2 separate regions of the Homo sapiens genome follow, and region 1 is linked to region 2. Evidence: fine-mapped expression QTL. A gene starts in region 2. The other region holds a variant in brackets. All regions are shown on one strand. Distances are from middle to middle. Region 1 has its middle 28 kb from the start of GADD45B. Region 2 holds the start of GADD45B (growth arrest and DNA damage inducible beta).

Evidence for each region. PIP is the estimated chance that this variant, and not a neighbour inherited with it, causes the effect.
Region 1: its variant is fine-mapped to the expression of GADD45B in whole blood (TOPMed, PIP 0.95).

The regions. Positions count from the first base shown.
Region 1 is chr19:2,501,589-2,506,955 of GRCh38, reverse strand. It overlaps the pseudogene RNU6-993P. Among named protein-coding and RNA genes, the nearest start is that of GADD45B, 28 kb to the right of the region's middle. The variant C/T (reference allele first, on the strand shown) is at 2,287.
Region 2 is chr19:2,474,037-2,479,403 of GRCh38, reverse strand. It overlaps GADD45B (growth arrest and DNA damage inducible beta), which reads right to left and starts at 3,277. Exons shown (of 4, transcript NM_015675.4): 1 at 3,002-3,277; 2 at 2,774-2,875; 3 at 2,153-2,375; 4 at 1,147-1,916. The coding sequence starts at 3,045. The coding sequence ends at 1,803. RefSeq lists silencers at 1-456, 4,017-4,126, 4,497-4,636 and enhancers at 527-636, 1,027-1,076, 1,887-1,956, 1,977-2,036, 2,107-2,266 and 5 more.

The DNA.
Region 1 (5,367 bases), 28 kb before region 2:
ATTTTAACAACTCCAGAGTAATTTAATTTACATGCTTAGCCGGACGCGGTGGCTCACACCTGAAATCCCAGCACTTTGAGAGGCCGAGGCGGGAGGATCACCTGAGGTCAGGAGTTCAAGGCCAGCCTGGTCAACATGGTGAAACCCCGTCTCTACTAAAAATACCAAAATAAAAAATAAAAATTAGCCAGGCATGGTGGCAGGCACCTGTGATCCCAGCTACTCAGGAAGATGAGGCAGGCAATGAACCTGGGGGGCAGAGGTTGCAGTGAGCCAAGATTGTGCCACTGCACTCCAGCCTGGGCAACAGAGCGAGACTCCATCTCAAAAAAAAAAAAATTATATACTATTGATGGACATTTAGATTATTTCTGAGTTTTGCTACTTTTACACACTATCTTTCAATAAAGTGCCTTATGAACATGTTTCTTTCTTTCTTTTTTTTTGACACGGAGTTTCACTCTTGCCGCCCAGGATAGAGTGCAATGGCGTGTTCTCGGCTCACTGCAACCTCCACCTCCCGGATTCAAGTGATTCTCCTGCCTCAGCCTCCCGAGTAGCTGGGATTTAGCTGGGATTACAGGCATGCACCCACCACGCCCAGCTAATTTTGTATTTTTAGGAAAGACGGGATTTCGCCATGTTGGTCAGGCTGGTCTCGAACTCCTGACCTCAGGTGATCCGCCTTCCTCAGCCTCCCAAAGTGCTGGGATTACAGGCATTAGCCACCGTACCCAGCCTACATATTAATTTCTGTACACACACTTGGATGTGTGTGTGCATTCCAGCATATGTGTGTGTACCGGTCCCTAGAATTATGAGACATTTTTATTCCCTCATATGTAAAATGCCTATTCATACTTTTTGTTTCTTTTCTTTTCTTTTTTTTTTTTTTTTCTTTTTTGAGACAGGGCCTGCTGGCTCTGTCGCCCGGGCTGGAGTCCAGTGGTGCTATCATAGCTCACTGCAGCCTTGATCTCCCAAATTCAAGCAGTCTTCCCACCTCAGCCTCCCAAGTAGCTGGGACTACATGGAAGCACCACCACACTCAGCTAATTTAAAAAAAAATTTTAAAGATGAGTTCTTGCTGTGTTGCCCAGGCTGGTCTCCAATTCCTGGGCTCAGGTGATCCTCCTATCTTGGCCTCCTAAAGTGCTGGGATTACAGGTGTGTGCCACTGCACCCAGTCTGTTTATTTCCTAATTAAATCACTTGCGTATTTCTTTGGGATGAAAGACACTTTTTACGCAGGCTTGTTAATTCTGGTCTGTTACAAGTGTTGCAAATATTTTCTCCTAGACTATCATTTAGATTTTTATGTCTGGCACACAAAACTCATCAACATGTTCCTTTCTTGATTCTCTAGGTTTTGTGACATGCTTAGTTAGAAAACTGTTCCACAAACTAAGATTTAAAATGATACATCCTGGCTGGGCGCGGTGGCTCACGCCTGTAATCCCAGCACTTTGGGAGGCTGAGGAGGGTGGATCGCGAGGTCAGGAAATCGAGACCATCCTGGCTAACACGGTGAAACCCTGTTTCTACTGAAAATACAAAAAATTAGCTGAGTGTGGTGGTGGGCACCTGTAGTCCCAGCTACTCGGGAGGCTGAGGCAGGAGAATTGCTTGAACCCGGGAGGTGGAAGTTGCAGTGAGCTGAGATCCCGCCATTGCACTCCAGCCTGGGTGACAAGAGCAAGACTCTGTCTCAAAAGACAAAAATGTTGTACATACACAGCATGGAATATTATGCAGCCACAAAAAGGAACGGGATCATGTCCTTTGCAGGGACATGGATGGAGCTGGAAGCCGTTGTCCTCAGCAAACTAACACAGAACAGAAAATCAAACACCACATGTTCTCACTTATAAGTGGGAGCTGAATACTGAGAACACATGGACACAGGGAGGGGAACAACACACACTGGGGCCGCTGGGGGGTGAGGTGAGGGGGAAGGGAGGGAGGGCTCCAGGATAAAGAGCTGACGTACGTGGGGCTTTTTGTTTGTTTGAGACGGAGTCTCGCTCTGTCACCCAGGCTGGAGTGCAATGGTGCAATCTCAGCTCACTGCAACCTCTGCTTCCCAGGTTCAAGTGATTCTCCTGCCTCAGCCTCCTGAGTAGCTGGGATTACAGGCGTCCGCCACCACACCCAGCTAATTTTTGTATTTTTAGTAGAGACGGGGTTTCACCATGTGGGTCAGGCTGGTCTCGAACTCCTGACCTCGAGCAAGCCACCCACCTCGGCCTCCCAAAGTGCTGGGATTACAGGCATGAGCCGCCGCGC[C/T]CAGCAACATGTGGGGCTTAATACCTAGGTGACGGGTTGATTGCAGCAAACCACCATGGCACATGTTTACCTATGTAACAAACCTGCAGGCTTGGGAATTCTGATCTGTTATAGGTGTTGCAAATATTTTCTCCTAGACTATCATTTAGATCTGCACATGTATCCCAGACTTAAAATTAAATTATTTTAAATTAAAAAAAAAAAAAAGAATCCAACTCCTCGTCTTTCCCAGCGTCGAGGGGCTCACATCCCTCAGCTCGGGGCCCCTTCCTCCACCTTCGCAGCCAGGAGCGCAGCCTCTTCTAGTCTTTCTTATGAGGGACCCTGTGAGGACACTGGGGACTCCAGATCATCCAGGCTGCTCTCCCATCTCAGAGTCCTTCACTCAATCGCACCTGCAGAGTCTCTGTTGCCGTGGAAGGTGACATACCCCTGTGCTCCCGGAATTAGAACAAGGACATCTTTGCCGGCTGCTATTCAGCCAACCATAGCTTGGGCTCCCCAGAGGCAGAGCCTGAGACAGAAGGTTCATATGCTCTTGTTTTCTGGGGGAGTCCAGTCTGATCCTCCATACGAGAGGGAGAGACCAGGACAATGAAGCAGGGAGCGAGAGCAGGCCCATAAGAGGGTGTGTCACTGCCTCAGCCTTGGCTTAATATAGGCGCCCTCGACCCCGCAAGCTCACGGAGCCGGCGTCTCAGGGCCCGTAGGCGGGAGGAGGTTGACTCACCGGCTCCTCACTGGCCACAGGCTCACCTCTGCACTGACTGGTTGTGGCTGCCTGTGTGCAGGGGGGAGCTCAGGTGCAGAGCTCACACCTGAGTGACATCCGTCAACACCTGACGGAGCTAGCCCGTGAGTGGGTGAGGTCGAGGGGCTCTGCAGGGGAGCATAAGAGGGTCTCATACCAGGACCGGCCATGTAACGTGCAGGGCTCAGTAAAAAATGAAAACACAGGGCCCTTTTTCAAAAATGTTTAAGAATTTCAAGACAATGACAGCAGCATTAAACCAAGGGTGGGGCCCTTCCGACCACACAGCGCTTCTGATCATGGGGCCCTGGGTGACTCACAAGTCGCACACCCATGAAGTCGGCCCTGTCTCATACACCCACCAACATATTTTTCAGATATTCCAGAAGGGGTTTGCTTAAGCTATTAGGACAGAAAAAAAGTCACAACAGATTGAAGTCATTAAACATTTAAAGCCTTTACTGGCCGGGTACAGTGGTTCATGCCTGTAATCCCAGCACTTTGGGAGGCCAAGGTGGGTGGATCACCTGAGGTCAGGAGTTCGAGACCAGCCTAACCAACATGGCGAAACCCCGTCTCTACTAGAAGTACAAAATTAGCTGGACGTGGTGGCTCATGCCTGTGATCCCAGCTACTCAGGAGGCTAAGGCAGGAGAATCACTTGAACCTGGGAGGCAGAGATTGCAGTGAGATGAGATCGCATCATTGCAACAAGAGCAAAACTCCATCTCAAAATTAAAAAAAAAAAACAAAAAAACAAAACCTTACCCTTATAACATGCTCACTTCAGTAGCACATATTCAAAAAGTTGGAAGGATGCAAAGATTAGTATTGCCCCTGCGTAAGGATGACATGAAGCATTTCATATTTTTAAAAAAGAAATAATAATAATTAAAAATTGCCAGGCGGGTGGCTCACGCCTGTAATCCCAGCACTTTGGGAGGCCAAGGCGGGTGGATCACGAGGTCAGGAGATCGAGACCATCCTGGCTAACACGGTGAAACCCCGTCTTTACTAAAAAAAAGTACAAAAAATTCGCCAGGCGTGGTGGCGGGCACCTCTAGTCCCAGCTACTTGGGAGGCTGAGGCAGGAGAATGGCTTGAACCCGGGAGGCAGAGGTTGCAGTGAGCCGAGATGGAGCCGCTGTACTCTAGCCTGGGCAACAGAGCAAGACTCTGTCTCAAAAAAAAAAAAAAAATTAGAGATCTTGTCTGGATTATCCAGGTAGGCCCAATGTCATCACAGGGTCCTTGTAAGAGGGTGGCAGGAAGGTCAGTCAGAGAAGGAGACATAACAACAGAAACAAGAGGCTGGAGTGATGTGAAGTCACAAGCCGAGTTGTACGAATAACTCCTGAAATCTGGAATACACCGGGAAACAAGTGAAAGAAGCTGCAGCCTTCACAGCCTCCATGCTACGATCCCAACTAGAAAAGATTCCGCAAAAGGCAAAGCTATACATGAGTAAAAACATCAGTGGTGGCTCACGCCTGTTATCCCAGCACTTTGGGAGGCTGAGGCGGGTGGATCACCTGAGGTCGGGAGTTGGAGACCAGCCTGACCAACATGGAGAAACCCTGTCTCTACTGAAAATACAAAATTAGCTGGATGTGGTGGTGCAGGCCTGTAATCCCAGCTACTCGGGAGGCTGAGGCAGGAGAATCGCTCGAACCCGGGAGGCGGAGGTTGCAGTGAGCCCAGATGGCACTGCTGTACTCCAGCCTGGGTGACAGAATGAGACTCCATCAAAAAAAAAAAAAAAAAAAAAAAATCAGGGGTTACCCAGGTTGAAGGAAGCGGGGATAAGGGTGAATAGGTGGAGCACAGAGGATTTGGGGAGCAGTGAAATTACTGTATGTGACACTGTCATGGTGGATATGTAACCTCATGCATTGGGTAAAACCCACAGAACACAGACCTCCAAGGGTGACCCCTACTGTAAACTCTGGACTGGGCTGGGTACGATGCCGAATGCAGACACTCTGCCTCTGCAAAGCAAAGAAGGGTCCACGCCACAGATGCCACAGAGCGCAGACTGATGGAGGGAGGGCACGATGGCCTCCTCAACCAGGCCGGGGAAGCACACCCAAATTAAGTATACATTGCCTCCCAAATCCAAGGAGATGCATTTGACGTCGTGCCTTCTCTTTGGTCCTGGGAAGGGCCAGAGGCAACAATTTATCTTTCACTTGACGTCAAGCAAGAGAAGGATAATGAGTACCAACAGCCAGCCTCCACATTGCACACATTTTGTTTATAATAATTAGAAAATTTGTTTTCATGCTAAAGAAAGGGTAAAAGAGCCATTTACAGGCAGCAGAAGCATAGTG
Region 2 (5,367 bases):
AGGGCTGTGGGGGATTCCCCTTCCCCTTCTTGGGCTCCCCTCTCCCCACTTCAGTTCTCCCCTCCTCCTAGCCCCAGGCGGGATCCTCTCCCCTCCCCGCTTCTCCCTCTGGGACTTCCCCCTCCTTCTCTCTCTCCCTCCCCCGTCGGGGCTCCCCCGATCCCCGTGACTCCTAGGGAGCCGCTGGGGTTTTCCTCATGCGCCCACGTGAGGCTCCGTGGAAAGGTCGCGGCCTGCGGGCAGGACCACCCCACCCCCTCCCCACTCCCCCCTAGTTCCCAGGCTTGGGGGCTGCAGGGCAGAGGGGAACCGAGGTCGTCCCGGCGCCTGGCCAGGGCGGGCCCACTCTGCAGACCCGGGGCGGGAAGACTGAGGCCGGGCACGGAAGGGCTGGGCCACGCTCCCAGCCCGGGGCAGGGGGAGTCACCACCGCGCCTGCAACTTTGGGAGAAGTAGGAGGTGGCTGGCCAGGGCTCGCAGTTTCGGTTTACAGGCAAAACGCAGCACTGCGCCAAGCCCGGCTGGCCCGGAGGCCGACTTCCTGGGGTATTTTTCTGCTTGTTGATTTTAGTTTGCGGAAATAAAAAAAGTTTTTTTCTTTAGTGCAAAAGAGAGGCCTATCCTGGGATGGAGAAGGCTGTGGTGGGCTGGGGGGGCACTCCCTGGGGAAGCCTCCAAAAGCGCTCTTCCTTGCAAGCCCTGAGCTCACCTCGCTGTGTGGTACCAGGTGCCCCCTTGACCGATCCGGACCTTGGGCTGCGGTGGCCGCCTAGGCGGTCAGGGGCTGCAGCCAGCACCCCCTCCCGCTGAAATGCCTCCATATGTGCCCAGAGCTTGGGGTTGGCTCCTGCACAGCCAGTAACAGTGGTGGCACGGCGGCCAGGTTTCGTAATAAACCGGTCTCTTAATTGCTGCAGGGTAGGAGGAGAAGGAAAAAAAAAAAGAGGCATAGATTTGTTGGAGTCGGTGGCGGCGCCTGCTGCGGAGAGAAGGGGTACTGTTTCTGCACGGGAGCCTGGAGCTGCTAACAGGGGCTTAAGTAACACTTCCTGGTGAGCTGGCGGGGGTTGTGGGGGGTGAAGCGTGTCCCCGGGGAGGGGGCAGGGGTCCTAGTTGTTCTAGAAGCCGAAAACATACAAGCAACCAGAGGCTTTAGAAATTTATTACAAGGCCCTCATAGTAGAAATAAAAATATAGATATCTATGCTTCCCATCTCGCTCTCAGTGGTTCGAATAACAAGTGCAAGTAACAAAATAGATTGTCTCTATAATTCGCAAACTGGGAGTTCATGGGTACAGAGCAACTTCAGCCCCAGCTCCCAAGTCCCAAAGTGTGGTCTTGTCGAGGGTGCAGACAAGGACCAACCAAGTTCAACCAAGTCTCTCGTATGCAGACGCCAGCTCCAGTCTCAAGGAGGGTGGGGCTTGCAGTCAGTCTCACTCCACCCCCGAGTGGACAGTCTGGACCCTCCGTGATGGGGAAGGCGGCAGCGTGCCCCGCCACTCCGGCTTCTGCTCCATCCCAAGGCCTCAGCTTCGGGGGTCCTGTCTCCTGCTGGCCTGGGTCCCCCCTTCTCCATCGGATCGGCGGCCGCCAGCTCCTGGATCTCCGCCCTGGGGGCGGCCGCTCACTCCCCTTCTCCTCCTCCTCTTCCTCTTCAGTCTCCAACGACTCTGCCCCCGATGGTCCTCGTGGGTTGGGTTGTTTTGGGGGGGTTGTGCTGGGGGGGAGGGGGTTCAAATATTTATTGTATTTTTTGTTTGTGGCAGCAACTCAACAGATTCTGCTGCTGGGAAGGGCCTCAGCGTTCCTGAAGAGAGATGTAGGGGACCCACTGGTTGTTGCCCCGGCTTTCTTCGCAGTAGCTGGCCACCTCCACCAAGCCGTGGCTCTTCCAGGCGTCCGTGTGAGGGTTCTGTAGGAGGGAAAAGAAGGGGTTTAGTGGAGCCTCCCTCTCCCGGGGCCCCTGTGTGGGGAAAACAGTCAGGCTCAAAATAGCTTCCTGGGTGAGGAGGCCCCAGCCCGGCTGCCCACGGGACATGCCAAACGTGGCTGAGCGCTGAGCTGTGCAGGACCAGTCAGCCCGACTTTGTTGACAAACACCGGCCCAGGTGCCCGGGCGTGGCGGGGCAGGGCAGAGGCCCGACTCACCGTGACCAGGAGACAATGCAGGTCTCGGGCCTCGGTGGTGCCCTGGGTCTCGGCCGGCTCTCCCAGGAGCTGCGCCAGGCGCTGCATGCCCGACACCCGCACGATGTTGATGTCGTTGTCACAGCAGAAGGACTGGATGAGCGTGAAGTGGATTTGCAGGGCGATGTCATCCTCCTCCTCCTCGTCAATGGCCAAGAGGCAGAGGACCACGCTGTCTGGGTCCCTGAGGGGGCCAAAGGGTAGGGATGGGTCAGCCGGGGACAGGGGAGGGGCCACCGTGCAGGGGGAGTTTGCAAAAAAGGAGCGTGCAAGAGCAAAAGAGAAACTGCAAGGGTGCAGGGGATTGCCTCTGCAAGCTGGTGACGGTGGGGGGAGGGGAGGGCACACGGTTCAAAGTATGGGGTAGGGGGAGACAGGCCCACGGCGGGAGGGGTGTTTGCAGACGATACATCAGGATACGGCAGCCCCCGATCCACAAAACGGCAGAGAAGCTCTGCATCCACAGCGGGGGGCACTTGGGGAAGTCCCAGCTCCATGCAAGACAAGCGTGCGGAAAGCGTCCAGAGCGGAGGGGAGGTCCCGTCCCACCCGCGCCCAGCCCGGGAAGGGGGTCTGACTCACACATTCATCAACTTGGCCGACTCGTACACCCCCACTGTGAGGCGATCCTGGCGCTGAGCGGCCACCAAAAGCTCCTCCACCGCGGCGGTCACCGTCTGCATCCTGAGACCAGGAAAGAGGGATCAGTGACGGGCGGACCACCGGGTGCTACGTTCCGCTCCCGGCCCGGCCCAACCCGACCCATCCCGTCCCGGCTGACCTCAGGCGGCGGCAGCCCCGGCTACTTACTTCTGCGCCGCGTTGTCGCACGCCACGAGCTCTTCCAGCGTCATGTTGCAATTATAATCCACAGTGGATGCGGCTCCACGGCAGTCCCCAGGGAGAAATTGCAAAATCCGAGCCAGAGAGCCCAAAACCTTCCCACAGAGCTAGAGCGCTCGTCCAAGACCTTCGGGAAGCAGCGAAATCCTTCCAGAAAAGGCGGAAAAATATATTGCAAAGTCCTTGGCGAGGATAATCCAGGAAGTTGCGGAAACCAACGGTAGTCCGACGCTTCGGCGATCTGAGCTGGGAGCCTCCGGCACCGACTTTTATAGACTTGAACATTGGGCGTGGCCTCAGTGGAGTCATTCGCCCCTCCTATTGGTGGAAAGACAAGGGCGAGTGCAGCTAGCTCTGCGGTTGGCCGACGGAGGGGAGGGGGAGGAGCGGCGTGCGGGGGCGCCCCACGTGGGGGCGAGAACCGGGAGGAGGGCGCGCGGGGGCCGGGTAGGTGACCGCGAATGCCAGAAAAGAAAAAAAAGCAGAAGTTTTTTTCTCCTGATTTCCCGGCAGCCGAGCCGCGGTTCGGGGCGCGCGCGGGATTTCCAGCGCGCGAGGCGGCCCGGACTTTCGGGGGGGCCTGGAATCCCCTCCCGATCCGCGGAGAGTCCCGGACCGCGCCTTTCCCAAGTTCTGCTGGGGGTGGAGGGGCTGCACCGGGAAGGGGCCCCGTTTGCAGCGTGATCTCGCCCAGGTGGTGGTGAGGGCCGGAGTCTCTCCTGGCTGCGACGACCCCAGCCCCTGGGTGATTTCGCTTCTCCCGGCCTCTCTGTTCCCGTCTGAGTAATGGGTCTGCAGCGCCGGCCTCGCTGGTTTGCAGAGCATGGCATAAAATACGGCTGACAGTAAGAGCCCAATACACATCAGCTGTCACCTGGTGGTCGCGGGAGGCCTCCTCGAGGGCCCCGAAAGTGGGAGGTTGCAAAGCCCGGGGCGCTCTGGAGAAGAAAGTGGGCGCCTCCTCGCCGACCCCGCGAGTATCAGGGTGGGGTGCGCGTGGGAGGTGCAGGTGGCGCGGCCCCGCCCCCGCCGGCTGCCTGGCGTTCCAGCCTTTGCCCGTGCGGAGGCCTCCAGGCCCTGGAGAAAGCCATTGTTGAGGGGAATGGTGCAGGCTCCGGCTGCACGCCGCCACCCAGGGCCCACGTGCAAGGATGACGGCTACTTTTATTTCTCACTCCGGGGTGGGCGCTGACCTGCATTGAGTGCGTGGTGCGGACCTGGTACCCCCCACCCCTCCGGATTCATGGATGATTTAATCCAAGACCTGGGAAGCAGGGGGGATGCTTATGTGCATTATGCAAAAGGGGAAACTGAGGCTTGGTGAGGCCATAGGCTAGTTCGTGTTGGAGCCACGCGTGTGCGCCAGGCACGGCCGCCTGCAGGACTCCGCCGCCCCGGGAAGGCTGTTCAGGAGCGAGGCTGGCAGGCCCCGCATGACAACGTCTCCCACGGTCGACTGGGGGCTCCCGGGTGACTCACATCTGAGTCCCCTCCCCCGCCAGCCTGGGGTCTGGCCTCCGCCCGGCGGCTCACTTTCCCCAGTTGCCCGGCTCCCCGGCCCGCGGGTCCGGCTGACGCATCCCACCTCCTCCGCGCCGCCCACCGCTGGGGCACGAAATGTCCCGGGGCTGCGAGGCGCGGTGGCGCCATCTGGTGGCCGCGCCGAGTTTCTGCGCCCTCAGCGCCGGAAGAGAGGGACGGACGGGCGGGGCACTGGGCTGGAGGCGGGGGATAAGGGGACCGTGGCGGTTGCAACGTTTTATGTAACTTTATGCAATGTTTTACGCATGCAACATACATATTTATATTTTATAATTTCAATTTAAAAGTTAAATCGGCCGGGCGCGGTGGCTTACGCCTGTAATCCCAGCACTTTGGGAGTCCGAGGCGGGCGGATCAACTGAGGTCAGGAGTTCGAGACCAACCTGACCAACATGGCCAACATGAGCTGAAGATAAGGAAGATCAGGGAGGTGGGTGGGATAAGTGCAAAGTCAGATTCTGTCTTTATTTACAATTTTGATATTTTGTTCCTCATGGATACTTGGGCATTGATTTTGATTTTTAAAAAGTATTGCAGGCTGGGTAATCCCAGCACATTAGGAGGCTGAGGCGGGCAGATCGTGAGGTCAGTTCGAGACCAGCCTGACCAACATGGTGAAACCCTGTCTCTACTAAAAACACAAAAATTAGCTGGGCGTGGTGGCACGCGCCTGTAATCCCAGCTTACTCAGGAGGCTGAGGCAGGAGTATCACTTGAACCCAGGAGGTGGAGGTTGCAGTGAGCCGAGATCATGCCACTGCACATGGCATGGTGACAGAGAGAGACTCCAT